7 linked regions of the Homo sapiens genome follow. The protein of the gene in region 7 purifies or fractionates together with the protein of the main gene of each other region. This does not show direct contact. Each region holds a gene or a part of one and is shown on either strand. Other genes may lie near its edges.

Region 1 (3,945 bases), on a different chromosome or scaffold from region 7:
GCCCAGCCTTACCTCCAGCACATGGAACATGAAGCCCTAGACTGTAATCTGCAGAGTGTGTCACACCATGGCCTGCAGCTGGATGGCCCATGCTCACATGAGGGATGTGCACAGCACAGAGTCTACAGGACCACAGGCCCTCTTGTGTTCATTCTCTTTGTCATGAGGTTTCCAGGCCCCACTGCCCTCTCCCCTTTCTCCCATCGTACTTTTTTGTTTATTTTTTAGACGGAGTCTCGCTCTTGTTGCCCAGGCTGGAGTGCAATGGCACGATCTTGGCTTACCACAACTTCTGCCTCCCTGGGTTCAAGCGATTCTCCTGCCTCAGCCTCCCAAGTAGCTAGGATTACAGGCATGTGCCTCCACGCCCAGCTAATTTTGTATTTTTAGTAGAGATGGGGTTTCTCCATGTTGTTCAGGCTGGTCTTGAACTCCCAACCTCAGGTGATCCACCCACCTCAGCCTCCCAGAGTGCTGGGATTACAGGTGTGAGGCAGTGCGCCCGGCCGCCATCGTACTTTTTCACACCAGAATCTCCATGGACAACCATATCTGCCCCTATACAGGTTAAGTATTCCCTCTATATCCAGCCCCTAATTCTCCCCATCAAAATCTTTTGGTCTCTTGACTTAAACATGAGCTTTATCAAATCTCCTGAAGGCTAATTCGAGTTTGGCAAATATTTCTGGAAAAGACACCAAGAACAATTTGGCAATCTGAAGGTTCCAGCAGTTTTCCCCAGTAGGTGGTGGTTATTTTTTATAAGCCGAGCTGCTGAAGAGACAGGCTGGGGCCACCATGTCAACCAGCCAGTCTAGAACCCCTGATGTGGGCTCACAAACAAGACAGCAAAGTTCTGCTGTCTCACTCCATGACTATGTCTGCATCGCACTCCAATTAGTTCAGGTAACCAGACAACCACAAGGGCACAAGAGGAGCACTCAACCCCTGAGCAGAGCTCTAGCTCACCCTTCCATGTGTCCACAGTTCATTTATTGAGAGTTTATTCTGTACAAGACACTTCAGCTAGATGAAACATCCTTTCTACATTAACAGATTCAAGTTCTTCAGCACCTACTGTGTGCCGGGCTATGTTCTAGATGCTTAGGATACAGAGGTGAACAATACAGACTTCCCACCCTCATGGAGCTTATAACCTTAGGGGATGAAGCTGGTGATAAATTTGTAAACAGAGACCGGGTGCAGTGGCTCATGCCTGTAATCCCAGCACTTTGGGAGGCTGAGGTAGGCGGACTGCATGAGCCCAGGAGTTTGAGACCAACCTGGGCAACATGGTGAAACCACGTCCCTACTAAAAGCACAAAAATTAGCCAGGCTTGGTGGTACGCACCTGTAGTCCCAGCTACTCAGGAGGCTGAGGCAGGAGAATCTCTTGAACTCGGGAGGCGGAGGTTGTAGTGAGCTGAGACCGCACCATTGCACTTCAGCCTGGGTGACAGAGCGAGACTCTGTCTCAAAAAAAAAAAAAAAGATCTGGGACCCAAAATAGCCTTTCTTCTCCCCGGCCAGCTATGAGGCTGAGGATGGGCTGCCTGTTAGTGAATGCCTGGGCAATAGGCTGCTTGGTTCCATCCCTCTGGGGATGTTGATGCCTGTGCTGACCCCATGACATCCACGTCAGTGCCTCCCAAAATTTTTGGAGGACAAGGAGGGGCAGGGGACACTGCCCTAAATAGAACCCTTCTGACCACCAAGGGTCTAAACATAATGGGACAAGTTATAGGGATCATAAAGGCATTTGCCATTCAAGGAGGAAGCAATGGATGGGGCTCCTTTCCATAACAGTTCCACAATAGGAAGCCCCCAAGCAAGGGCGCCCCTTTTTCAATTTTTTCCTCAGTTAATGTTGCTCGAGATGGGGTGATTCTCACCACCACATCCAGGTCCTCAGCAAGCGTTGCTTACACTGCCTCCAAAACATATCCCAAATCCATTGGCTTCACCTGCTCCTCCGTGGTCTGGTCTGGACTCGCTCCAGCCGCCTCACTGAGGTTATATCTGTGATTATACCTACCCTCTATAATTCATCCTCTCCACCTCCAGCCAGAGCAAGCCTTTTAAAGTGCAAAGCAGATTGCTGTACCCACCAGAAACCCTCCTGTGACTCCCCATTGCTATTGGAATAAAACCCAAACTTCTTACCACACCCTTACCATGGCTTTCTAAGGCCCTACATGATCTGGCCCCTCCCTAGTTTTCTGGTCTTCTCATTCTCTCATTGCTTACTGTCCCTGAACATCCGGGAGCCTCTGTACTTGACTGTTCTCTCTGTTCCAAATGTTCCTTCCCTGAATTTTTGCAGTGTTGGCCCTTTTCATCATTCAGGTCTCAGTTCAGATGTCGGCACCCGAAGGAGGCCATATCTGATCATGACTACCTCTCAGTTTCTGTCATATTTTACTGTTTTTAATCTGTAAGTTACGTTGAACTCTGTTTACAATTTTTTTTTGGTTTTAATCTTTTTAAAAAATTATTATTTTTACACACAGGGTTGCGCTGTTACCCAGGCTGGAGTGCAGTGGCGTGATCATACTCACTGCAGCCTTCACCTCCTGGGCTCAAGCGATGCTCCCACCTCAGCCTCCCAAGTAGCTGGGACCACAGGCACATGCCAACTGCGTCCCTTCATTCTCTGTTTTTGATGTCTGCTGATAGGAATTTCCTGAAAACCCAAGTACCAAGAAGCAATAAAGGTAGTGGTGTGAGACTGTTCCCTTCCACTTAACCTGCCCATGTCTTTTTTTTAAACCCTCTGTAGTGACAGTAGAAATGCACAAGCCCCATGCCACTGCCCAGCAAATAACCACACTGCCCTTGAAGCAGCCATGGGAGTCAGACGGGGGACAGGGCTGCTTCGTCATCTGCATAGTACTGACCATAATGGTATCGGACATGTAACAAACCCAAGTCCATGCTCATGATGGGAAAATAAGAACATTATGGACAGGTGGGGCATGAGCCTCAAGCTATGAGCTCCTCATGCCAGGCCAACCAGTGCTGCCAAAGCCCTTTCAAAGTTCTCATGGCCAGGGGCGAGAGGAACGCCAGGCTACCTTGAACTCATGCCTAGAACTGAAATGTGTTTTAACGACAATTTAATTCCTCGCAAGCTGAAATGTCACAAAGTGGAGGAGGTGGACCTGGAAGAACTCTGCAGCCTACAGCCTTGGGACAAAGGGCTTTAAATGAACTTTTCAAAGAATTCTGCTGGCCTTTTAGAACCTTCCATTGCCTAATGCTCACTAAAAGCTCACCAGATCTCCACCCCCAGGCATTATTCCTTCAGCAGCTACATTATTTCTGCTTACAACTTCAGACGACATCTCAAACCCAACGCTGACCACCCAGGAAATCAGGCTGGGGATCAGCAGGGTGGGAAGAAGTACTCAGTGAATGAATGTTCCAGATATTGGACATGAAAGAAGAGTAAGACAGTCCAGCCCTGGACAGAGAAGACTGTGACAAGAAGGATACCTAAGTGTGGGAGAGAAATACAAAGTGCAAGGGGAATACTTGCCTGGGGCAAGAGTGTCAAAAAAGCACCTCCAGGAGGTGCCATCAGCACCTTCAAGGATAGGCTATCTCATCATTTGGATCCTTCTGGTCATCCGCTGGATCCTTTGCAAAATGAGGTGCCTTTTATGCAGTAACGGTTTGCTGACTGAACTCTCTAGGGAGGATGGTGACTCCCTCCTGGGCAGCCCCCATCTATTGCCTGTTGCCTTCCAGAACTTCCAAAATGGCAAAAGCCCCAGCCAGCCCAGCCCCAGTGTCTTGCCCACACTGACAACATCGTGGGCATCTTCCCCAACTCCCCTATGTTGGCTGCCTCCTATTCCCCAAGACCTTTCCACTGATACCTCCACGCACCTCCACAGAGAGGATCTTCCCCAAGGCAAAGAAGAAGGGATGCATGTTGATGTC
Region 2 (3,945 bases), on a different chromosome or scaffold from region 7:
CTCAGCTCTGGGTTGGAAAAGACATAAACACTGATTCCAAAAGGTCCCTGTGAAAACGCAGATTTCCTGTGGAGGGGAGGAGGGCTGGGTGAGGGCACTGGGATGTTCCTGCTGATAAATTAGTAGCAAGCAATTTGGAGCCCAGAAGTGGGCCTCCTCTTTCTATAGTGAGGTGTGGGTGGGCTGGGGAGGGTCACAGAATTCTTCTGCCTGGGTACAAAGCCTGCTCCATCGTCAACAACTTTGGATCTTGGACAACGTACTTAACCTTAATGTGCCTCAGTTTCCTCATTGGTAAACAAGGAATATTGATACCTACCTTGGAGAATTCTCAGGATCCAGGCCCCCATTTCTCCACCACAGCCAGGTAGCCCCCTCTACTCACTGGACCCAGGGACTCCATAGAGGCCATGCCTTCCCGCCTTGGGCTCTGGGCATTCCTTCCCCATCATTGCCCTCTCTCCAAGCCCCCCAACCTCCATCTCACAGTTTCTTTGCTGTTCTCCCACAGTTCCCCATCTTTGAGCTCAATCATCTGAACAAAGAAGAAACTGAATACCATGTTGCCTCCTAGACTGCCATGTCTAGCTATGCCACCTAAGTCTCCTCCACTCCTAGTCCCCTCTGCACTCACCCACTCTGGAGACAGCCCCTCCTCTTTGAATCGCCCAAGTCCTCAGCTTCCATGAAGTTACTCCATCTGGGTTCTCCCTGTGCCCTTGGCTGCTTCTTCCCCTTCTTGATGGTTTTTCTTCCTCCTATAGTGGACCACATCCCCTTTCTCAGCTTCAACTCCCCCCCATACACTGAAGGTTCCGTATCTCCAGCCAAACTCTCTCCCCAGAGCCATCTGACTGTCTAGGAATCATCTCTTGATGTTCAATGTTTTAGACTTAAGGGGCATTAGGAAGACTTAATACAGTAAGGTACACCGAGCTCCCAGCATGCTGCCTGGTCCAATAGATATCTGGCAAATGGTAGCCATTATTATTATTTGCAGTTTGACCCTCAGTACCATTTTAATAAGCAGAACTACTAATTTGAAAAGAGCAGATAAAACTCTCCCCCAGGAACTGAAGGAAGGATTGAAGTCCTTGCCTCAATCTCTGGGGTTAGTGAGTTGGAAACTCCACAACAATCACTGCAGGCCAGCCACTCTAGGAACTAGTTCCTAAATTCTACCTCCGAGTCCCCTGATTAGTTAATTGGTGTTCCAGTGATTACTTCTGTTGACAACCTTGGTGGCTTTTGGCAAGGCTGGGTCAGCCCAAGCAAGTCCAGACTTATTGTGGCAAATCCCACTGGCTTCTGGGATGTGAGACATGATCCCTGTATGGCAGAAGAAGCACCTTGTTAGGGAGAATTAATTGGGAGAGTGAATGCGGAAACAAGGCCCTCTCGGCAAGTTGGCTGAAGGCTTTGGTGCCATGGGTCCCAAACAGGGCTCAAAACACCCCATAATGCCCAGGCTAGCCTGCATCTTGTTGGGATCCACATAGCTGAGGAGGGAGCTCTGAAAATCATGCCTGTACCCTCCCTTCCCAGAGGAACAAAGACTTAACATGCAATGACTATCTTCTTCCCAATCTAGAGAAAGAGGCTTGGATTGCAATAAGAGGGACTTTGGTTAAATATGCAGAAGAACTAACTCCCATGTCTATTTGAAGTAGGCATGTGGGGAGAGGGGAGCCTGGGCTTTGACCTGCAGCAGCTGTGAGACCAGGGTGGCTCACTTTCCATCATTGCTTTGCAGCCAGAGCTGGAGGCCTGGGTGGGTGAATGGTAGGCATCTCCCCATTATATGCCCCAGAGGAACACCTGCCAAAGACCTACAGCTCTTCTAGACCGTTTCCTACCACCCACCACAGTGCAGCCCCCAGCTCCCTCTTCTCTTGGCTGTCCCAAGGTAGGTAAGGTGGTTGACTAGGGAGAGAAACTCAGCCACAGGAAATGATCAGGTGTAGCACTTCCTAGGGGCCTGGACTTGGAGTGTGGACCTCTGGTGTTTCCTCTCCTATCGGCACCTGACTTCTGCAACCTTGGGCTGGTCCCATGGCTTTTCTGGGCCACCATTTCCCCAGCAAAGTCAGTAGCAAGGTAAACTGGATGACCTTGAAAATCCTTCTAACTGGGAGGGTCTCTGATTCTGCATCAGTATTTTCTTTGCCCTGGGTCCCTTCTCTGTGCAGGCAGGTGGAGTTATGACAGCTACTAGAAGCACAGAGGTACCTATAAACACATGGGTGACTCTGGCCCTGGCCTAGGACCCTGGGCTCAGGCTGATTGCACAGACAGATGCAATGGCTTCAGGGAGTGCTGGGCTGGGACAGGGATGTCAGAGACCACTGAGAAATACCCGCCTTCCCTCTTCAGGGCTACTAGGCAACCCAGAGCCCATGGCTCCATTTGGAGTCCCAGGCTGCAGGTTTCCCAGGGTGAGAGGTGGGGGAAGGAGCATCCCAGCACCCATGACAAGGCTGGCCGCTGTGGGCATGAGATGAGGTCCTGCTAGCTTTAATCTTGGTGTGCGTTGAATGGTGTCCCCCAAGACAGGAGCCCCACTCCCACAGAGTCTCCTCCTCAAACTCTGGGGCTCTGGAAGGAAGCCACCCCATTTCTCACCTTCCAGGGCCTAAGGCGGGTCACCCCCTCCTCCTGCTCTAAGAGCCTGGGTCTCCAGCCCTCGCAGCCCCAACAGCCCCGGCCTCTTGTTTTCACTTCCCCGACTTGTCTCCAGGAGCCCTCACCTCTCCTCCACCTCTCTTGGGGCCCTGCCTGAAGCAGGTCCATGGTGAAATCACAGATTCAGAAGCGCCGCTTTCTGGCCACAGCCCTCGCCTTCTTGTGAGCTCAATGCAGACACCTCCTGGGCCCTCTTGGGTCTGTGCCTTCCCCTCAGCTTAGCTCCCACCTTCACTCCAACCCAGCGTGGATCCCGTGGTCCTCTGCTCCTCCGTGCTGTCACCCATCTCTCAGCCCCCCTCACCCCCAACCTGACAAAACCCCAGAAGAAAGGATCTGTGGCCCTCCCTGTACTGGCCCATAGCACCTCCTGGTGAACAGGCCCGGCTGCACTCCCAGACCACGTGCTGCTCAGCCTCCTCACCTCTCATTCTCCCCTGGATGTCTCACCCCTTCTCTGTGTCCTCAGACCTCTGACTTCCTGCCCCTTCCCCACCCTACTCTCTCCTGTCTGCTCAGTCACAAGAACACAGGAGCCATTGGAACAACTTCTTCAATTTTCCTACCCCTGAACCCTACCCCCAGCAGCATTTTCCTCCCACCCCACTCCTCTTCCACCTACTGAAGTGGGGAGGGGTCTCCCCGTGCCAAGGCTGATCCCCTCGTCTGTGCTCTGGTCCCCCCTCCTCTTCATAGACTTTCCCAAAATCGTCCTGTCAGCGTCCTCGACATCTCTCCTGGTGCCTTCTCTACTGCATTTACGCAAGCCCCTGTCTCTCCCATTTAAAACAAGGACAAATACATAAATAAAAGCCCCTCCTGATCCCACATCTTGTTGCGGCTGTGGACCTGTCTTTCTCATTTTTTCCCCTCACCTGTCACCTGGATCCCTTCTCTGGGGACAGGGTTTGGCTACGTTGCCTGAGACACTAATGGATACTCTGTAATCTCATGGAGTGTGACCTCTCAGGAGGGTCTGACCCTGTGGATGCCCCCCACCCACCCTGATCACACATGGCCCGGATCTGCCCTCACCACCCTGGCTGCTTGTCTTTGGACCCCGCCAGGGTGGAGGCCTCACCCACCACCCTCGATTCCAGCACTGTTGTCATGCTGGTAGGCTCTACTTCTATCCCTCCAGCCCAGGCGTCTCTCCTCATTCCAGACCCAGAGCCAACATCCCACAGGCTCCTCAACCCCGCGTGTCCATCCAACTGACCCACTGCCCTCCCTCGAACCTGCCCCCGCCTGGCTCCATCTCAT
Region 3 (3,945 bases), on a different chromosome or scaffold from region 7:
ACCTGATATTGGTTAGTAGCAAGCACAGTCAATTTTCCATTAATTGTGCTTTGTGAAAGACTAAGTACTAAGCCACCATTTTAGGATATAATCCCAAATATTTCTCTTCTAAACATAAAAAAAAATGTTATTTTGGTTTCAGCTTTTTACGCTCTTTTGTTATGGGTTGGCAAAAATATAAAAAAACAAAATCAAAGAAATCTTTAAAGCAGGCTATAAAGTTCGCTCCAAGAGGTTCTGTCATCATCTTAAGGGCTTTCTTCCACTCTAGTTTTCCCAGTAAGGAACTCTATCAGAAATGAAATAATAAAGGAAGAAGAGTTTTCAATGAAGAAATGAATATCTTAAAGAGACTGTTGCCTAGGTGTCAGGACCAAGCAAAACATGGACCGGGAGTTAACCTGATAAAAAAAAGATTAAAGATGGACAATATCCTGGCTTAAGTGCCTCTAGAAGTTCAAAATAGTTCCCTAAAACAAACACAAATTAAGAATTATAATTCAAATAATGAACACAGAAAAAGAGAAGATTAGAGGTAAAACATCGTAGGGTCAAACATAACATTTATTATACAAAACACCAAATGTGTTTTGACACATATATTCTTGATGTTAATGCAAGTCAAGTTATCCTAACCCACATATCAAGTTTTATTTTTATTTTACCTAAAGAATGACTACAAGTTGTATTTTTAAAGTTGATAGTGATATTTAAGTCGGTTCTCATTCGGCATATTATATCTGTTTCTATACTTAACAATGACAATTTTTCATTCATCTTCAGCAGAGGAACCTTTTTGTTATCAAACGTAACCTTTTTGTTATTCTAAACAACAGTATCACATTTAAATTACATCTTGAAAATAAGGGACAATTTCTCTAAACAGTCTCCCTACTGACCAACAGAATTTATTATAATTAAAAGAGCTTCCATAATACTTTCAAAATGAAGAAATAGCATAGGGAGACTATAACTATACTGACCAATACCAGTTAATAGCCAAAATAGGCATGATTCGGGTAGTTCTAAAACTATAAACACAGATGATCCTGAATTTAAAAAAAAAAACTATAAATCGGCTGGGCGCTGTGGCTCATGCCTGTAATCCCAGCACTTTGGGAGGCCGAAGCAGGCAGATCACGAGGTCAGGAGATCGAGACCATCCTAGCCAACATGGTGAAACCCCGGCTCTACTAAAAATACAAAAATTAGCTGGACATGGTGGCATATGCCTGTGATGCCAGCTGCTCGGGAGGCTGAGGCAGGAGAATCACCTGAAATGGGGAGTCAGAGGTTGCAGTGAGCCGGGATTGCGCCACTGCACTCCAGCCTGGTGACAGAGAGAGACTCCGTCTCAAAGAACAAAACAAAACTATAAATCAAATTTTCACATACCCACAACACAAACATGCAGTTAGTATATTCCCCCTATAAATTACTGTATAATTCTGATTATGAAGGATTCTAGAATGATGGAAAAATGGTATGAAATTATGATTCCACATTCTTTTATAACTGTAGATGAAACAAATATTGACAGTTGCACAACAGCATCTTCCACATACTTTACATCAAGGAAAATTTTGTTGTGACTAATAAGCTTTTCTAAGGATTAATAGAAATCTATAAAAACAAAACAAACAAAAAAACACCACTCTACCAAAAAATATCAAAACCTGAATCTGATCAAACCTCTAGATCCAATTAACAGGTTATCAAAAATATAGAGGACAGAGGAACATGTTAAATAATACCACAGAGATGCAATCTGCAAAACTCAGACTCTGAGAAACTAAATAAAGCAACCTAGTTTCTTCAACAAATAAGTCATAAGGGGAAAAAAGGAGATAGAGGATGGAAATTATAAATTAAAAGACTTTAGAGACAAAACCAATTACAACATGTCAATTTTATTAGGTTTTTGAGTCTATAAACTGATGTAAAAAATGAAGTTACTTATGAGACAACAAGAAATTTGAAAACCAGATGTTTGCTGATATGAAGAAATATGTTAACTACATTTAGGTTAAGAATCCATCTTTTAGAGACAAATACTGAAATATTTATGGGCTTTGCTTCACAAAAATATGAGACAGGGAAATGCTTCCAACACTTCTCCAGTAAGTATGATATTTGCTCTAAACTTTTTGCAGATACTCTTTATCAGGTTAAGGATATGTCTATTTCCAATTAAATTTTTATCTTATATAGATGTTAGACATTTATCAAGATGATCTCATTCCTCCTTTGGTCTTTTAATGTGGTAAATTACATAATATTAGATTTACTACTGTTAAACCAGTTATATCACAGAGATGTAGTTTGCAAAAATCTGCAAAAACTCAATGGGTCAGTGATGTAATGACTATAAAAGAAAATAAAATCTTTCTAGTGTTGGTGAGAGCATACCTGAAAAACTATTTCTAAACTTCACTGACAAATCAAAGAACACCTACAGGAAATGTCTACAGGGTAAATAGAATCTGACACTTTTCCTAATGGGGAAGGAATGTAGTATAATGGAAATAACATAAACACTGGGTTCACATCCTGACTCTGCGACTAGTTCTATTAACCTTGGGCCAATAGTCTCCCGGCCTGTTCCACATATCCCTATATGCTGCAGGATTTCTGAAAGGATAGGGAGATCAACTGAGAAACAGTTCAGTAGTTTGTTCTAGGTATTAAACTACTAAATGGCAGAGTCTAGGCTTAAATCCAGGATTTCTTACTCTAAGTCCACGATCTTTCCAATACTGTATACCATATCTCAGTAGATTCCATTTCATATCAACATAATCCAAATGAGTGAAGTTAACTCAGTTTTTAATGTCTAGTAATAACTTATAACATAATTCTCAAAGTATAGTCCAGGAACCCTAGTGGTTCTTGAGACCCTTTCAGGAGGTCTGCAAGGTCTCACATGCATAGTTTTCCAGAAGCTAGTGAAAAGTGATGTCCATAGCAGACTGAATACAGAAGCATATATGTGAATCCGGCTATTTTCTGTTAAGCTAGACATTAAAGACATTTGTAAAAATGTAAAATTTTCTACTTTTTTCAGAAAATAGTTATTTTTCATAAAACATTATTTGTATTAAGATATAATGGGTTTATTACTGCTATTTTTAAAAAATAATAAATATTATTACATTTTATTTTAATTTCAAATACAATAAATGTCAATGAATAAAACTCACATTAACAAAAGCCCTTTGGGGACCAAAGGATTGTAAAGGGGTCATGACATCAAAATGTTTAAAAATCACCAGCTTCGGACATATCTAATCCTTTACTAGATTTAACTACAAATAAGTATATAAAATTCAGAATAAATAAGGTGTTCAAAATGCTATGAACACCTTCATTGATTAAAAAATTATGTGGGGAAAGTCAGGAAGTGGGAAAACAATATGGTGTTATAGAAAGGACAATACTTTTATATACAGAAATCCTGGGTTCAAATGTACTAGACATTTCCCTGAGTAAGTTACTGAACCCTCTTAAGCTTCAACCTCTTTGCCTATAAAATAGAGACACTGGCAAACTGCCTTACCTTCTTCTCCAGGTTAAGAGAGTCAAGTGAGATAATGACTATAAAACGCTATTTCAATACATTATATTGAATATTGACAATGAAAAAAAAAACCACTACATCACTACAAACATAAAATCATAGCTATTATTAAAGTTTACCTCTGTGACAGACAGATGGACACTTATGGTTTCTACATCCTAAAGTCCGTCCACAGTTTTGATCACAAGGTGGACAGTTTCCAGGGCAACACTGAAGAGAAAGCAATATATAAAGAACAGGTAATTCAAAAACCCATGAATAATAGGCATGTCATTACTAGTTACAGAACTTATGGAAAGCAAAAGATACACTTTTCACTAAAAGAAGTATTCAAGAATATCAACATTCTTCTGGTAAGTAAACATACT
Region 4 (4,375 bases), on a different chromosome or scaffold from region 7:
TGGCACATGCCCACCCGCCACCCTGTCTCCAGGTTCAAAGTGTGCCCAAAGGCACAGGTCCCAGTGAGTCCCACACTTGGGGCCCACACAGTGCAGCTCCAGGGCCAAGCACAATGAGGAGGGGGCAGAGTCCAGCTCTGCTCACTGCCGCCTCCTCCACTCTGGCCTCTGGGCTGGGCCTGGGTTCAAGATGGTTGGGGCAGGCTCCCTGCACCTCGCAGACCCTGCTGGAGAGAGAAAGGGAGAGTCAGAAAGGACACCTCAGGGACAAAACACCCTGGGAGAAGCCAGAAACCGGATGGCCCCGACTGGGGTGCCTGTGAGCAGAGGGCTGGTGGGTGTGTGCAAAGAGCCTGGCAGGAGTGAGCCACAAGCAGAGCAGAAAGGGGTGCCCTCTCCTGCCTGCCTCACAGCCTCACCTTGCCACGGGGCCGGAAGAAAGGAGCTCACACCCAGAGCCCAGCCCTAGGTGAGCAGGAAGTGTCCGTGAGGGGAGGAGGCCCGAGCTCAAGGAGTAATGAGGAAGCGGGAGAGGAAAGGCTGGGCTGGGCCAAGAGCAGCAGGAAGCTGGAGGGAGGGGAGGCTGTGAGGCTGACAAGGGGGTGCGCTAGAGGCCAAGTCCCAGGAGGGCAGGCAGAGCAAGGCCTGACGCAGACAGCAGGGAGAAGAGCCCAGTGTCCACAGCCAGTGGCCGAGCCCTGCTGCATCCCTAGGTCTGAGGGACAAGCACACATAGCCTGCAAGTCCTGGAGACCCAGGAGCAGATAGACTTTTGGTCTCAGCCTCCAGCCCCATGAAGGCCTCACCTCTCCATCTACTGCCCCTCTTCCCAAGGAGACCCGACCTCCACGGCAGGGACAGGGACTCACCAGGCCTCTCCCACGAGCTCTGCACCCATCCCACACCAGCAGAAGTACAGGAAAGCCTTGCTGGTTTGCAAAGCAAGAAGGTGACTGCTCTCCCCTGCCTACCCCCAGGTGGCGGCTTGGCCCAAAGCTGGGACTACCCTCATCTCACACTAAAAAAAATCTCAATTCCCGGCCGGGCGCGGTGGCTCACACCTGTAATCCCAGCACTTTGGGAGGCCAAGGCAGGTGGATCACCTGAGTTCAGGAGTTCGAGACCAGCCTGACCAACATGGAGAAACCCCATCTCTACTAAAAATACAAAATTAGCCGGGTGTGGTGGGCGCCTCTAATCCCAGCTACTCTGGAGGCTGAGGCAGGAGAATCACTTGAACCTGGGAGGCAGAGGTTGCAGTGAGCCAAGAATGTGCCATTTTACTCCAGCCTGGGCAACAAGAGCAAAACTAGTCTCAAAAAAAAAGAAAAGAAAAAAAAAGAAATCTCAATTCCCACGTCCTCCACAGGTCATGTAGCCATCCCCCTGCCTCCTGGAGAGAGGGTAACTCCAGGAGCCACACCTCCTTTTCAGGTAGGAGGTGCCTAGGCCAGCCTCCCTCACCAGCACCCCAGGCCCACAGCAGGCAAGCACCCCTCTCAGGAGGGCCACCCTCCTCCCCACGGCCCCTTCAAGGCCTCCGTGCCCGACCTTTGTCCATGTTGCTCCATGCCTGACTCTCGCTGAGGTTATCTTATCTCCCAGATGAACTGAGCACCCTGAGGGCCACGACAGTGCCTGCCCTCCCCCAACCCCCTCCCCATGGTGCCCCGTGAAGGAAAGCTCTGTTCTTGCTCACTGAGAGAGCAAATCATTGCCAACTACATGTCCAAAATCAGCCCACTTCTGCCTTGATAACCTCTAGGCCCTCAGCTGCTCTCTAAAACAAAGCCCTGAGGGCCCCTGGGCCAGGGTAAAGGCCATAAAGGGGGGATGGAGGGTGGCAAGGGGATTGCTCAAGGCCAGCTTGGTGGAGGAAGCCAATGCCCAGGCTGGCCAAGTCCTTCCCATCGGCCATGGTTCTCTCCCTCCACCCCTCTCTGTCAGTCATCCAGCTGAGCAGGGCACACGCCTGCAGGTGTGTCCACCACCCCCATACCCCACTCCCCACCTGGAGGATGGAAGTCCCAACACAGAACCCAACTCTCTGTCCCTACAACAGACGCTGGCTCTGGCAACATCGGCAGGGCTCCAGGCCAGCCTAACCACTGGAGCAATGAATGGGCCACGCAGCCACTCTCAGAAGGGTCTGCAAGGACAAGAACGCCTCTAACACTGCCCCTTGTCCGGGGCAGCTGCTGATTCCCCTGTCCTCGGACAGGCCTGGGCTCCTCTGGCCCCCTCCCTGGCAGGCCAGCCCTCCTCTGGGAGCCTTTCCTACCCGCAAGGCACCGCTCATAGCACCAAGAAGGAACCTATCACCACAAACTGCCCAGATCTTATCTGACTCCTTCCATATAAGGGGACACTGTCCAGGGCCGGGCCCCCACCAGCCCGCCCCTCGAAAAGCTCCTCAGGAGCCCCTGAGGATGCACAGACCCAAGAGGATCTGGATGCGGGACACCTGCCGGCTCCCCTCTGCCTGGCCAAGGCCAGCTCCAGAGCCCCTACCCAGTGACCTTGTCAGGTGACTCTCCCCAAGCCTCAGTTTCCCCACAGGGCCCATAGGGCACACCGATCCCCGCTTAGCCCAGGGCCCATGTTCTCGGACTCGGAGCTCGCGCTTCGGCCAACCCCGGAAAGTCGCGGGGCCCTTGGGTCAGAGGTTAGGGGGTCAGGCGCTCCGCTACCTCAGCTCCCAGTGGCCGCTGCCCACGCCGGCGTCTCCGTCCTTGTTGGGGGCCGGGGCTGGCGCGTCCCCCGCGGCTCCCACGTCGGGGCCCGCAGCGGCGTCCCGCACCTCCTCTTCCGCCGCCGCAGGCCCGCCGCCGCCGTGGCTCGAGGGCCGCGACCCTGTCCTCCGGCGCCGGGAGCTGCCGCGGTCGCCCATGGCCTCAGCCCGCACCCGGCCGCAGCCAAGCGTGGGCCCGCCGGGTTCGTAGCGCCCGAGGCGCGCGGCCCCACCTCCGGGCCCTAGACAACGGCCGCCACTGCCCCCTGCCGGCCGCCGTAGCCCGGGTGACCGCCTCACCAGCGCGTTCAACCCGCCCGCGTCGGGCCCGTCGGCCTCAAGGACAACGGCTGCGTTGCTCCGGAGCCGCTAACTAATGGACGGCCGCCTCTCTCGTCCATTTGTAGTCCGCGGCCGACCTGAGGCGGGGCCTGGAGAGGCTGACGGGGCGCAGGGCACCCTGGGAGTCGTAGTCGCCGCGGGCGCGCCGGCGCAGAGCACCCTGGGAGTCGTAGTCGCCGCGGCCGCACCGGCGCAGAGCACCCTGGGAGCCGTGGCAGCTCCCAGGGCCGGGGCTGCGGGCCGCAAGTGCGCGCAGCGGGAACGGACCTTGCATCGCTCCCGCGTGGTCCCGGGGTCCTGTCCGGCCCCACGGAGCGGGATGGTCCGCTGAGGGGTGCGCTGGGCCCCGACTTCCTGGCCGCTGTGCGCCCGCCCCTCGTCCCACTTGTGTACACACGGGGTCTCGGCGAGTCACTCCGGGCAATCATTTAGGAAGCGCCTAGTGCGCCACGGTCCAGCTGTCCGGGCCGGTGTCCGCGGCGGCTCGCGTCGCCCGCCACCCAGCGCGTTGGTTTCTGCGCACGCAGCTTACAGTAACGTCCCTGGCGCGCTTCTGCTCCGCGAGCCCTCTGGTTACCCCGGCAGGAACCTGCTTTTCTTCGCCTTAGGGGGACGTCAGACAAGGGCCAGGTCAGAAGACCAAGCTGGAGAAATGCACCAGGCCCTGCGTCACCGGGACGCCTGCCTTGCACGCGACTCCCAGGCTCTCCACCTCCCCGCCTGCAGAGCCCGGCGAGAGGAGGGCGAGGGCGAGGGCGAGGGCGCAGGCCCCTTGGTGGTGTCTTCTCAGCCCACCCACTCTCTCCACAAGGAGCTCCACGTCCCTCAACTCTCAGGGCCTCCCAGTTTCCAACGTGGGCCAGCCTCTCCAGGATGTCAGAAGTCTGGGCCGCTGGATCGCCGGGACTCAAGAGGCTTCTGTGCATTTGCACGGCCTGTGCAACCGCCCTGTTGTTTTTTGTTTTCTTTTTTCTTTTTTTGAGACAGTCTCACTCTGTCGCCAGGCTGGAGTGCAGTAGCGCGATCTCGTCTCACTGCAACCTCCACCTCCTGGGTTCAAGCGATTCTCCTGCCTCAGCCTCCCGAGTAGCCAGGACTACAGGCGCGTGCCACCACGCCCAGCTAATTTTTCTGTTTTTAGTAGAGACGGGCTTTCACCATATTGGCCAGGCTGGTCTCGATCTCCTGACCTCGTGATCCGCCCACCTCGGCCTCCCAAAGTGCTGGGATTATAGGCGCAAGCCACCGCGCCTGGCCTGTTGTTATTTTTTCTAAAGATGGGGGTCTCGCTATTCTGCCCAG
Region 5 (3,945 bases), about 55 Mb from region 7:
CTGACAGGCCATACAAAAACAGACAGCAGGTGAGGCATGGTAACTCACACCTGTAATTCCAATGACTCAAGAGGCCAAGGCAGGAGGATCACTTGAGCCCGGGAGTTCGACACTAGCTTGAGAAACATAGCAAGACCCCATCTCTATAAAAAACAAAAATTAGGCATAGTGGCAAACACCTGTAGTCCCAGCTACTTGGGAGCCTGAGGCAGGATTGCTTGAGCCCAGGAGTTTCAGGCTGCAGTGAGCCATGATTGTACCACTGCACTCCAGCCTAAGAAACAGAGCGCGATCCCATCTCAAGAAAAAAAAAAATAGTATAGTACAGTAATTCTAGTGTATATATATATATACTTTTTTTTTTTTTGAGACAGAGTCTTGCTCTGTCTCCCAAGCTGCAGCGCAATGGTATGATCTCAGCTCACTGCAACCTCTGTTTCCCGGGTTCAAGTGGTTCTCCCTGCTCAGCCTCCAGAGTAGCTGCAATTTCAGGTGCCCATCACCATGCCCCGCTTATTTTTGAATTTTTAGTAGAGATTGGATTTTGCCATGTTGGCCAGGCTGGTCTCAAACTCATGACCTCAAGTGATCCGCCCATCTCGTCCTCCCAAAGTGCTGAGATTAAAGGCATGAGCCACCGCACCTGGCCAATTCTAGTATATTCTTATCAAATGACCCTTGATATGGTTCATTTGAAATAAATAACATTAGAAGCTCCAGTCAAGCAAAAGACAAAGTAGAAGGCATCACTATTTTGTTCACATTTACCCATCAAACATTTCCTGAATGACTGAGCCAGCCTGCAGAGCTAACACTGCAACAGTGAAGTGAAGAAATCCCAGACCTGGGGTCCTGGAATCCAAGAGCCCCATAGAGGAGACATGAACATATCCCACTGCAAACAAAAATATCTCGGTGAAGGTGAAACTTAATGGGAATTGGCTATCCAGGAACATTCTGCCCAGGTTGCAAATGAGGTTGGAGAAGTCTTGACAGAAGAGGACTCTTGAAGTTAGTAACAACCATGAGATTTACTGAGTGTTCAAAAGATTCCAGTCATTGCTGAATAATATCCCCTTAAATTTGCCATTAAAAGCATCAGTAGGATTTGAACAGGCAGAGGAGGCAGGGAGGAAACACAGCTTGCAAAGGCACAAACATGCAAATGTGCCTGGCATGCCTGGGGAGCATCAGGTAGTCCATAGCAGGAAAGCTAAAACTGAGAGGAGCCCTGAATCCCAGGTGAAAGCTTCTAGACTTAATCTAGGGGACCACATGCAGGCATTCAAGATTTTCAAGCCAGGGATGAAAGGAACAAGATCTATGCTTTATTTTTATTTTATTTATTATTTTGTGACAGGGTCTCACTTTGTCACCCAGGCTGGAGTGCAGTGGTGCAATCTCAGCTCACTGCAGCCTCAATCGCCCAGGCTAAAGAGTTCCTCCCACCGCAGCCCCTCAAGTAGCTGGGACTACATCCATGCACCACCATGCCCAGGTACGCTTTTTGTATTTTTCGTAGAGACAAGGTTTCACCAGGTTGGCCAGGCTGGTCTTGAACTCCTGTGCTCAAGCGATCTGCCCACCTCGGCCTCCTAAATTGCTGAGATTACAGGTGTGAGCTGCTAAGCGCAGAAGCACGATCCATGTTTTAGAAAGGTTAATTCTGGAGCTGGGAGGAGATTTTGTAAAATCCAGAGAGCCAGAGGCAGAGGAAGTTAGGAGGCTGATGACATCATTTGGGTGAGAGAAGGCAAGGGTGGAGGCAGTGGCAATGGAGAGAAGTGAATTGGTTCTTAAGATATTCTAGAGAAAGTCAAGAAACTTTCTGTCCAGTGATCTTTATGTTCTTCCCTGCTGCCTTTTTTTTTAGAGACAGGTTCTCTAAAAAAGACTGTTGTGCCAGTCTGGGGTGCAGTGGTGCAATCCTAGCTCACCATAGGGTCTCACTGTGTTGCTCAGGTTTAGTCTTTATGTTCTTTGTAGAAGAACAGATTCAGCTATCTGCAGAGCAAGAATATTTGGGGGTGGTAAGGAGCAGGGGGAGTGGACAGTCTGGAACAGCCCCTGAGGTAAACATGACAGAGATACGAGTGAAGGAACAGAGAGATAAGAGTGAAGGAACAGAGAGGCTCAGGCGTAGCACCAATGGCCCAACTGAGGCTGGAGCTCAGAAACCAGCTTGTGCAGCCAGTTAGCACGGCTGAGTAATTTGGTCAGCAGTGCTGGAAAGCCTAGACACGCAGGCATAGAAAACCTGTGCCTGGGTTGATTTAGGATGGAGAACTGGCCAACCAGCCACCACAGAAGGTCAAAAGGAGAGGGATGGCTGCCTGGCCCTTTGTCCTTCCTGCTGGCTGGCATGAGAATATGATAGCAGGAGGCGACACAGCCAAGACAGACCACAATGTAAGAGTGGAAATGAAAAGTCACAGCAGAGCAACATGCTATAAAGAGTCGGAGTCCCTGATACCACAGAGTCGCATCACACAGTGCCCCAGACCACATACCTGGGCTTTTATGTGCAAGAGAAAGAAACTTCTAGCTTGTTTCAGTCACTGTTTTGTTAGGTTTTCTACTGCTTGAAGCCAAAACGACTTTAACTAATAAAAACTGAACTGAGTAGAAAAGAAGTAAAACCAGGAAGGGGCTGGTAAAGAGAAGACCAGAGACCAGAGGGCTGACCCTTACCCTGTCAGTCCAGAAGCAGGTTTAGAGGGAGTGGGGTAGAAGGGAGGAAGGCTGTAATCAAAAGGGGAATTTCAGCATTCTAGATTTCAGAAGTAGAACAGTTCCCAAGAAGAAGTGGTTAAATTCTTTGGGATTTTTGGTTGTTTGTTTTTGAGTAAGGGTCTTGCTCTGTTACCCAGGCTGGAGTGCAGTGGCATGATCACGGCTGACTACAGCCTCAACCACCTGGATTCATGTGATCCTCCGACCTCAGCCTCCTGAGTAGCTAGAACTACAGGTGCCTGTCATCATGCCCAGATAATTTTTAAATTTCTGCAGATACGGGGTCTCACTATGTTGCTCAGGCTGGTCTTGAACTCCTGGGCTCAAACGACCCTCTCACCTCGGCCTCCAAAAGTGCTGGGATTACAGGCTTCAGCCACTGTGCCCTGCCTTGGTGGTTAAATTCTAATCACAGCATTCATGGCAGCTCATCATTGATTGAGAATTTAGGATGCACTGAGCAATCACTGTGCTAAGCAAGTGCTTCCCACGGATAACTCTCCGCCAAATCCCAAGGAGGAAGGCACTACCATTAGCTCATTTAATGATGAGGAAAGTAAGATTTGGAGAAGCTGAATCATGCGCCCAAGACACTCAGCCCCCTAGTGGTGCTTGGAATTCGACTCGAGAGCCAGAGCATGGCCTGCTGGGACACACTGCTGCCCAAGTGTTCCCCTCTGCCTTCCCGATCACCCTCCATTCTCCCACCACCACTCTAGTCCCACAAAGTGAAACAGAATCAATAGCTCACCTGCAGCGACTCTCCCTGGAGAAGGAATGAGAACTCCGCCCATGTCGAAAATCACCGCTCTGTAGGTGCTGCCTCCAAGGTGTGTCCATCGGTGGGACCCCTGGTGCCTGCGCTGGGTGTGTTTCAGGAAGGCTGTTCTCCACACCCACTGGAGACGGGGGGACTGGAAACAGCTCCTGACACACATGGTGAGGCTGAGGCTGTGTGGGAAGAAGGCACAGGGCGTTACTTGCCTGCACTGCCTCCCAACCAGGCCTCCATCCTGGAGCTCAGAGGGGCCAGCCAGACATCTCTAACCCATCTCCAACAGGCACTTCGAATCACACCCACAACTGACCTCAGTGTCTCCTCCCTCCCTGGCTACTTAGTCAAGGGCTCCATCGCCCACTCGGCTGCCCAAGCTAGAAAGCTGGGACTCGCCTCTGACTTTCTGCAATCTCTACCTCACCTCGCCCTATCTA
Region 6 (3,945 bases), on a different chromosome or scaffold from region 7:
CAGACAGGAGGGGACCAGGAGGGCGCCCTCTAGGCTGAGGGGATGTCAGACAGGAGGGGACCAGGAGGGCGCCCTCCAGGCTGAGCGGAGACTTTTACTCTGTGATTGACAACAGTTCCTGGGCAATCCTAGATCAGTAGTCAGAAAACCTTAACTGGAAAAGAGAATGCATGGCGTTTTCATTTCTCTGAGGAAGCCGAGAAACTTTAATTAGGTGACGGGGTTCCGAGCACTTAAGCAGATGGGGTGCGGTGAAGGCCCAGGGAGGAGGAGGGCAGGGAGGTGCACGTCCTCTGTGCCCCACACACTTTCAACCACTGCAACAAACAAGCACCCAAGAGAGGCTGTGCGGCAGAGCCCTGCACCCACAGGCCTTTGACAGCACAGTGAGGGGCCTCCGCACGTGGCCTCGGGACGCTCACTCGACGCACACCCGGTGCATCACACTGGCACCTAAAGACAGGCCGTGCAGCTAAAAGGAGCACGTGTGGCCAAGGAGAGCAATCAGCTGTCCCGCGTTTCTAAAGGCAGGGACCGAGGCTGTGGAGGGGCGAGCAGGGCAGGCCGGCGGAGGCTACTTGAGCAGCTTGGCCACGTTCAGGCTGGGCACCACAATGTCCTTGAAGAGGGGCACGTAGCTGGGGCTGGCCTGTGCTGGGCCCTGCTCCAGGGTCTCCATGATGGTCTGCTTCATGTCACGGCTGGCGTCCCCACGCACAGCCAGCAGCGCACCGATGTGGTCATCCCTGGGGATGGGGAGATGTCAGCCCATGCCCACTTAGCAGCCCTGTGATGCACCACGCTGCCAGGGACTCACGGCTTCACCACCCCAGCTGACAGAACACAGGGGGTGAGGACCGCTGCAGACAAATTGCACCTTTCCCTTTTCAGCGGGAGACAAGCCTGCATTTTCATCTTACTCTGTCTTTTCTCAATCCAATTGCAGAAAGATTTTTCAACACTGCTTTTATAAATCTTTGTTCCGGCCCAACCAGAGGGGAGACCGTGGAGAGCTCAAGACCCCGTTTTTCCACGTTTAACCAGCGAGATGATGGGACGGAGGTGACGCGGCTGCAGCCATGGAGGTGGCCCCTTGGGGAAGTGGCAGGTGCCCTGAGACAGGGGCCGCAAAGGCTGGCCTGGGGCCTGGAGCCAGCATGGTGGAGGGGGGACGTGCGTGGGTCCCCTTCCCTGGACCTGGTACTGGGGACTCCCTGTAATCACGTCCTCGGAAGGTGTCTGGTCCAAGCTGCACTTGGGCCCTCCCGAGTCCACCATGAGCACAGAGGAAACTTCCTAAACTCGCCCCACTGAGGCCACTCCACAGCCCAAATCTTCCCCACCACACACAGCAGAGCTGTCACAGCCCCGCCCCCACCCCACTGTCCCCACCCGGGATGTGCCCCTCGAGCTCCACCCACCCACACTGTAGCCCAGGCCAGGTGGAAGGCAGCACAGAAGCAGCTCTGCTCCCTGCGCCTGGGCCCCGCTGTGCCGCACCTGAACCCTTGCCGTGCTGCAGGGCTGAACTTGCGAACCAGGAGCCCCACCCGCCCCAGACAGAAGGAGGGACCTGCCGCTCCACTCCAGGATTCTAAGGCAGGATTCTAAGACGTGCATCCCTTACCTGATGTCTGGATACTTGCTGACCAGAGTGGAGACCTCCAGGTAGAGCAGAGAAGGGTCTGTCAGCTTGATCACTTCGGCCACAGCCACGATGGTGTCGCAGTATCCGTCCACGTCTTCCCCGAAACCCTGGAAGGCAGCAGCAATGTGAGGAGCCGCCCTCGGCTGTCCCGCGGCGCTGGGAGCAGCTGGATTCTGGCTGAGCCCCTTCCTGACTGGGAACCTCCCTCTTCACCTGACTCCTCAGGATCTACTCTGAAAGCTCAGTGACAGGGCCAGGGGTCTGGGGTGAGGGCGAGACCGTGGGAGGCAGCCAGCACCTCGCAGCGCAGGACAGACTGGGAAGCGTCCGTCAGGGAGCTGTGGGCGGCCTCGGGAAGCCGGCGGGGCCGGCGCGTCTACCTCTGTGGACATTCGTGTCCAACCACAAGGTCAGGCAGGACCTGGACCCAGGCTCCCCCCGCCTGACAAACACACGACACACTCCCATCTACTGGCCCGAGTCCCGGGGTGGAGGCTGAACAGGGCCGCGGAGCGACAGGCCTTCTCCAGCCCGGACCTGCGCGACACTCACGGACGCCAGCTTCCGGAACAGGAAGCGCAGCTGCTCTGCCTCCCTAACCATCTTCTCGGCACCCTCCTTGCGCTCCTCCGGGCTCCGGAAGGAAATGCGCTTCTGCATGACCGCCCGCAGGTACTCCACCACCACGCGCCGGTGCGCCTCGGCCGTCATCCTCTGGGGAGACACGCGCGGTCAGCGGCAGGCTCCACGGCTCTGGCGGCCAGGAGCACCCTCATTGAAACCCAGGCTGGGGCTCCCGGTGGCTCCCCGGAGGCTCTGAGCCCACTCCTCCTCGCTCCGCCACGGCTCTGGCATCTCACCGCAGAGGAGGAGCGGGGGCTCAGTGGGGGAACAGTGACGGTGACCTGGACCCCCGCACCAGGCCAGCTCCGGCCCCCAGCAGGACAGACGCGGGCGAGGCAGTGCCGCGCATGAGCACTCGGTCCACAGACAGGCCCGTGTCAGTGGCTGCTGCTGTCCTTTGATAACGACCGCAGCATCTGGAAAACGCGGCAGGCACTTTGGAGGAAAGAGGAACCTGGGTCCTGCAGGAAGGAGGGTCTGAAGCGGAAAGAAATCCCTGGGGCCTCAGGGAGTGAGTGGAAGGCAAGGAGCTAAGACGGGGCACGCGGGCCTCTCCGGGAACCATGGCTCCCTCCACCTCGAGGGCCATGCCACAGGGCCCCGGCCATTCTCACCAGAGCCCCGTCCCAGGGAGGTGGCGTCCGCAGAGCCTATTGCCTCCCTTGGGCTGATAGGACAACAAGTGAACGTTCACTCACGGAGGGACTCGCTGGATGCTGAATTCTGAGCAGGGTGAGAGGTGAGCCCTAGCGTCAAGGTGATGAGGGAACTAGGTCCCACCTTCTTACCTTCTTATACGGCTTTTTAATTTTGGCAAAATCGTTGAAATAGTCTTCCACGGTGACACAGATAATGTCTACAGCGTTTGACCCTAATAGCCACTTCTTCGTCATCAATTCATTCAGATGTTGCTGAAAAGCAGAAACAGATCATAGAAATCATCACCTCAACGTCCCACGAGAGCCGAGTGCATGTGGGAGGGAGGCACTTCCTCACCTCAACGCCCCACGAGAGCTGCGTGCAGTGTGGGAGGGAGGCACTTCCTCACCTCAACGCCCCACGAGAGCTGCGTGCAGCGTGGGAGGGAGGCACTTCCTCACCTCAACGTCCCACGAGCACTGAGTGCGTGTGGGAGGGAGGCACTTCCGTGCATCTTTGCTACGTCACACTGCTTTTCTAATTACAACAGCAATGCGCACTCAGGTAAAAATTTGATTATATAATCTGCAAATGTGTACTTTAAGTATAGGAGATTTATACTACAATTTCTGTGATGAGCTTCCCAAAATGACATGTTAAAGATGGAAATATCTGTGCATGTATACATTTTACCTTTAGTGGCTACATATATTTATCGTATTTATTTGCCCAATTCTCTATTGATGGACATTTAAATTTTTTTCACATTTTGCAATAATGCAACAGTGAATCTGTATAATTCTGATGAAATTCCTTAAAGTTGAATTTTTCAGTCAAAAAGTATACACATTAAAACCAATAAAAGTATACAAATTAAAACTCCAATAAAAGTATACAAATTAAAACTCCAATAGAAGTGTACAAATTAAAACTCCAGTAAAAGTTACAGATTAAAACTACAATGGCTGTATTTCCAAGCTGCCCTCAAAAACCCAACCCAGTTCAGGCCCACACAGAATACAAACAGCCCCTTT
Region 7 (4,451 bases):
GCGCCACTGAATTGTACACTTAAAAATGGTTAACGTGGTAAACCTTACATATATTTTACCATAATAAAAGAATCAGTGAGCAAACTTTTAAAAAATGTTCTCTTTGAGTGGATAAAGAAAATGTGGTGTGTGTGTGTGTATATATATATATATATATATGGGAATATTACTCAGCCATGAAAGGAAATGAAGTACGGATGCATGCTCCAAAGTGAATGAACCTTGAAAACATGCTAAGTGGAAAAAAAAAAACACAGACACTGAATGTCACATATGATATGGTTCCCTTTCTATTAAGTATCCAGAATAGGTAAATCCACAGGGACAGGAAGCAGAAGGTTGGTGGTGGGGGGAATAGGATTGACTGCTTAATGGTTATGGGGTTTTCTTTGCGGGTAATGAAGATGTTTAGCACGTAGACAGAGGTGGTGTTTGCACAATGTGCATGTCTAAATGCCATTAAATCACACATTTTAAAATGGTTAATTTTATGCTATGGGAATTTCACCTCGACTTAATATATACTCAATCCCGTCCAGCCGACACACCTTTGGCTCAGGCCTAGGCCACTCTGCCATCTGCCAAGTGTGGCTTGTGTAACAGACAACTTCTCTGGGCCTCAAAGAGGGTGAAGAAATCCATCCTCCCCACAGGGGTATCTCCAGAATCCAACGAGATGAAGTGAGGTGAAAGCGCTCTGAAGGGCAGGAAGCTCTGCTGACACAAAATGTTTACCCATAACACGTGGCTTAGAGTCCCTTACCCTCTAGCTTGGCGGGAGAGAGAAGTCTGCTCTCCCTACCCCACGCCCCATCCCCTGCTCATCCCCTGCCAGCCACCCACCACACCCTTCACGCAGAGAAGTATAGAGCCACAGGGGGAGGGCGCCATTCTCTCTCTCCCTCCCTACTCAGGAATCTCCCTGAAGCTTTGACAAAGCCCCCTTGACACCCCGCATTCAATCTTATTTTTATTTTTTTTTATTAACTCTGTCACCTAGGCTGGAGTGCAGTGACCTGATCTCAGCTCACTGCAACCTCCGCCTCCTGGGCTCAAGCGATTCTCCTGCCTCAGCCTCTCAAAATGCTGGAATTACAGGCGTGAGCCACCATGCCCAGCCATTCAATCTTTTCTTTCCCAGATTCTCACCTCCAATCACAAGATGAAGGCAGGGAGCTCACAGCCCTGTGAGGGGCTGGGGAGAATGGCAGGGGTGGGCCAGAGTTATTAAAAGCCCAACTGATGTTCAGATTTATTTTGACCCTCCCCTATACCCCCACATCCAATTTCACTCTAGTAGGAATCAAGACAGGGGAGAGAGGGATTCCAAGCTGACTTAGGGAGAGGAAAATACATACATACGTAAAGCATTTGCCACAGGCCCCACCTGAGCTAAGCACTTTCCCTCCCTCAACAGCTCCTTTAATTCTCAAAGCATCCCTTTTAGTAGATAATAGACCCCACTTTGCAGAGGAGAGCACTGAGGCTGAGGAAAGAGGTAAATTCATTCAGCGGGTGAGGGAGGAGCTGGGATTTTAATGCTGGCAGTATGACCTCCCCGCCACTGGCACACCGGGTCTTTTGCTGGGACATCCCCTGTAACCGGATTGGGGGAATGCAGGAAAAACCCCATCCCTCCCTACAGAGCCTCAGCAGTGACAGCTACTTCCCGGATGAGAAGGGCGGCCGTGAAGCCAGCAGGGAAGCCAGCCCCACAGCCAAGGGCCCCCCAGCCTCCTCACAGCTCCCCATAGCCTGGACCTGCCGGCCCTCCCTCCAGGACCGAGGGGCTCCCAAGGGAAACTCAGGTGAGTGTCGCCCTCTCCCAGGGAAGATGGGAATCAGGGCTTGGAGACAACTGGCTATCCTGCATGATCCACAGGTTTTCCTAGGGATGAATCAGATTGTGTGGTGTGCGTGTGTGTGTGTGTGTTCCACACTCACGGTCCAAATAACAAGACAGAAAAAGAGCAATAAAGATCTGTGCAAAAGGGCTGAGGAATGAAGTGCCAGGAGAGAGGTGGAGGTTGGAGACCACCTAGGAATGGTGGGTGTGGGGGGATTGAGGGGGTTGTTGAGGGGGAACTGGCTGGGGGTGGGGAGAAATGTTGGTGGACACCAACAGTCCTGGCCTCTTCCAGCTGAAACCCCTTAAGAAAGTATCTCTGCTCTTGGGTCAGAGCTAGCAAGTGAGTTGTGTATTATTTATTCACAGTTTGAAAGCTAAACTTCCCTTTCTTGCCTTAGCCCCAGAATCTTTCCCCAAAGCCCCCGACTCCCTCTGGCCTCTACCTTGAGGACACAAGGCTCTCGAGGTCTGCTTTCCCTTCCAACCCTCCCTTCATCCCAATAGGCGTGTGCTGGTCCCAATGTCAGTGAAACCCAGCTGGGGGCCTGGCCCCTCGGAGGGGGTCACCGCAGTGCCTACCAGTGACCTTGGAGAGATCCACAACTGGACCGAGCTGCTTGACCTCTTCAACCACACTTTGTCTGAGTGCCACGTGGAGCTCAGCCAGAGCACCAAGCGCGTGGTCCTCTTTGCCCTCTACCTGGCCATGTTTGTGGTTGGGCTGGTGGAGAACCTCCTGGTGATATGCGTCAACTGGCGCGGCTCAGGCCGGGCAGGGCTGATGAACCTCTACATCCTCAACATGGCCATCGCGGACCTGGGCATTGTCCTGTCTCTGCCCGTGTGGATGCTGGAGGTCACGCTGGACTACACCTGGCTCTGGGGCAGCTTCTCCTGCCGCTTCACTCACTACTTCTACTTTGTCAACATGTATAGCAGCATCTTCTTCCTGGTGTGCCTCAGTGTCGACCGCTATGTCACCCTCACCAGCGCCTCCCCCTCCTGGCAGCGTTACCAGCACCGAGTGCGGCGGGCCATGTGTGCAGGCATCTGGGTCCTCTCGGCCATCATCCCGCTGCCTGAGGTGGTCCACATCCAGCTGGTGGAGGGCCCTGAGCCCATGTGCCTCTTCATGGCACCTTTTGAAACGTACAGCACCTGGGCCCTGGCGGTGGCCCTGTCCACCACCATCCTGGGCTTCCTGCTGCCCTTCCCTCTCATCACAGTCTTCAATGTGCTGACAGCCTGCCGGCTGCGGCAGCCAGGACAACCCAAGAGCCGGCGCCACTGCCTGCTGCTGTGCGCCTACGTGGCCGTCTTTGTCATGTGCTGGCTGCCCTATCATGTGACCCTGCTGCTGCTCACACTGCATGGGACCCACATCTCCCTCCACTGCCACCTGGTCCACCTGCTCTACTTCTTCTATGATGTCATTGACTGCTTCTCCATGCTGCACTGTGTCATCAACCCCATCCTTTACAACTTTCTCAGCCCACACTTCCGGGGCCGGCTCCTGAATGCTGTAGTCCATTACCTTCCTAAGGACCAGACCAAGGCGGGCACATGCGCCTCCTCTTCCTCCTGTTCCACCCAGCATTCCATCATCATCACCAAGGGTGATAGCCAGCCTGCTGCAGCAGCCCCCCACCCTGAGCCAAGCCTGAGCTTTCAGGCACACCATTTGCTTCCAAATACTTCCCCCATCTCTCCCACTCAGCCTCTTACACCCAGCTGAGGTAGAGGCCAGACTCCTCCAACAGTGAAGGAAAAGGCACAGGTGAGAGTATAGGTGGGAGATTTGGGGGGATGTAGAGGGGAGGGTCAAAGCACTCGTGGTCAATTTTGAATCTATCTTAAAATACTGAGGTGTGGAGAGAGAGACAGGATCAGGAGCGATAGAGAGCAGGCCCTCAGTGTTGTACTATTTGTCTCGGTCCTTGTGTCTAAGGAGCAATGCAGAAAAAAAGGTGAAATAAATGGAAGAGATAGCCATGGACTCTGGATCTTTTAAAAATCTGCACTTCCAGCTGGGATTGGGAAGGGAGCTGAGGCTAAAGAGGTGCTCGGCAGAGGAAACTAGACACATTCATTTCATAAATCACTCTGGCTGGAAACAGTGAACTCTGCAGGAACCTCACAAAACTCCTTTTGCGTTTGTGAGCTTGTTGATCTTCCAGCTCACTATGCAGGTTATGGGGACAAGAGGCCAGAGGCCAAGGAACCAGGCGGCCCCAGCAGGACGTTCCCTAGCTGTGCATCCTATGCACAGCCATGATAAGTGAAGGCGGATGGGGATGGCAGGGGTGGGGGCGAAGCCAAGGTCTGAGACCTGCACCCTGCAGCTGGGTCAGCAGGATGGTATCTCCACCCGCGGCCATCCAGGAAACACAGCTCCATTTCCTTGCTGACACCCTCCCCTCCCCGTTGTCCATCCTGCTCCCTCCCCACAAGCAAGAGGAGTTGTCCCAGAGTCAGCTCCTCATAGCTGACCTCTTACCAGCTTCGGATCTAGGAAACTTCCAGACTTCTAGGGAGACACAGAGCTACCAGAAAGCCCAACCCACCCCCATCTCTTTCTCTCCAGATCATAGGAAAGTATCAA

Evidence for each region.
Region 1: the proteins of ACKR5 (region 7) and FADS1 purify together in Homo sapiens (co-immunoprecipitation; 2 studies listed by BioGRID and IntAct, with this or other methods). This does not show direct contact.
Region 2: the proteins of ACKR5 (region 7) and SFXN5 purify together in Homo sapiens (co-immunoprecipitation; 2 studies listed by BioGRID and IntAct, with this or other methods). This does not show direct contact.
Region 3: the proteins of ACKR5 (region 7) and NFXL1 purify together in Homo sapiens (co-immunoprecipitation; 2 studies listed by BioGRID and IntAct, with this or other methods). This does not show direct contact.
Region 4: the proteins of ACKR5 (region 7) and DGAT1 purify together in Homo sapiens (co-immunoprecipitation; 2 studies listed by BioGRID and IntAct, with this or other methods). This does not show direct contact.
Region 5: the proteins of ACKR5 (region 7) and ACAD10 purify together in Homo sapiens (co-immunoprecipitation; 2 studies listed by BioGRID and IntAct, with this or other methods). This does not show direct contact.
Region 6: the proteins of ACKR5 (region 7) and EXOC3 purify together in Homo sapiens (co-immunoprecipitation; 2 studies listed by BioGRID and IntAct, with this or other methods). This does not show direct contact.

What each region holds. Positions count from the first base shown.
Region 1 is NC_000011.10:61,806,860-61,810,804, forward strand, and holds part of FADS1 (acyl-CoA (8-3)-desaturase), read right to left. Parts: coding exon 3,892-3,945; intron 1-3,891.
Region 2 is NC_000002.12:72,956,346-72,960,290, forward strand, and holds part of SFXN5 (sideroflexin-5), read right to left. Parts: intron 759-3,945; coding exon of another isoform or gene 635-758; intron 1-634. UniProt on the Homo sapiens protein: Mitochondrial amino-acid transporter. Transports citrate. Does not act as a serine transporter: not able to mediate transport of serine into mitochondria.
Region 3 is NC_000004.12:47,886,917-47,890,861, forward strand, and holds part of NFXL1 (NF-X1-type zinc finger protein NFXL1), read right to left. Parts: intron 3,788-3,945; coding exon 3,697-3,787; intron 1-3,696.
Region 4 is NC_000008.11:144,323,747-144,328,121, forward strand, and holds the start of DGAT1 (diacylglycerol O-acyltransferase 1), read right to left. Parts: upstream 3,107-4,375; 5' UTR 2,891-3,106; coding exon 2,691-2,890; intron 1,636-2,690; exon of another isoform or gene 1,572-1,635; coding exon of another isoform or gene 1,552-1,571; intron 1,507-1,551; exon of another isoform or gene 899-1,506; coding exon of another isoform or gene 870-898; intron 483-869; exon of another isoform or gene 261-482; intron 228-260; exon of another isoform or gene 215-227; intron 1-214. UniProt on the Homo sapiens protein: Catalyzes the terminal and only committed step in triacylglycerol synthesis by using diacylglycerol and fatty acyl CoA as substrates. Highly expressed in epithelial cells of the small intestine and its activity is essential for the absorption of dietary fats.
Region 5 is NC_000012.12:111,692,436-111,696,380, reverse strand, and holds part of ACAD10 (acyl-CoA dehydrogenase family member 10), read right to left. Parts: intron 3,685-3,945; 5' UTR 3,672-3,684; coding exon 3,485-3,671; intron 1-3,484.
Region 6 is NC_000005.10:463,528-467,472, reverse strand, and holds the end of EXOC3 (exocyst complex component 3), read right to left. Parts: intron 3,184-3,945; coding exon 3,061-3,183; intron 2,363-3,060; coding exon 2,201-2,362; intron 1,756-2,200; coding exon 1,628-1,755; intron 747-1,627; coding exon 575-746; 3' UTR 183-574; downstream 1-182. UniProt on the Homo sapiens protein: Component of the exocyst complex involved in the docking of exocytic vesicles with fusion sites on the plasma membrane.
Region 7 is NC_000012.12:56,992,841-56,997,291, forward strand, and holds the start of ACKR5 (G-protein coupled receptor 182), read left to right. Parts: upstream 1-1,651; 5' UTR 1,652-1,808; intron 1,809-2,353; 5' UTR 2,354-2,369; coding exon 2,370-3,584; 3' UTR 3,585-4,451. UniProt on the Homo sapiens protein: Orphan receptor.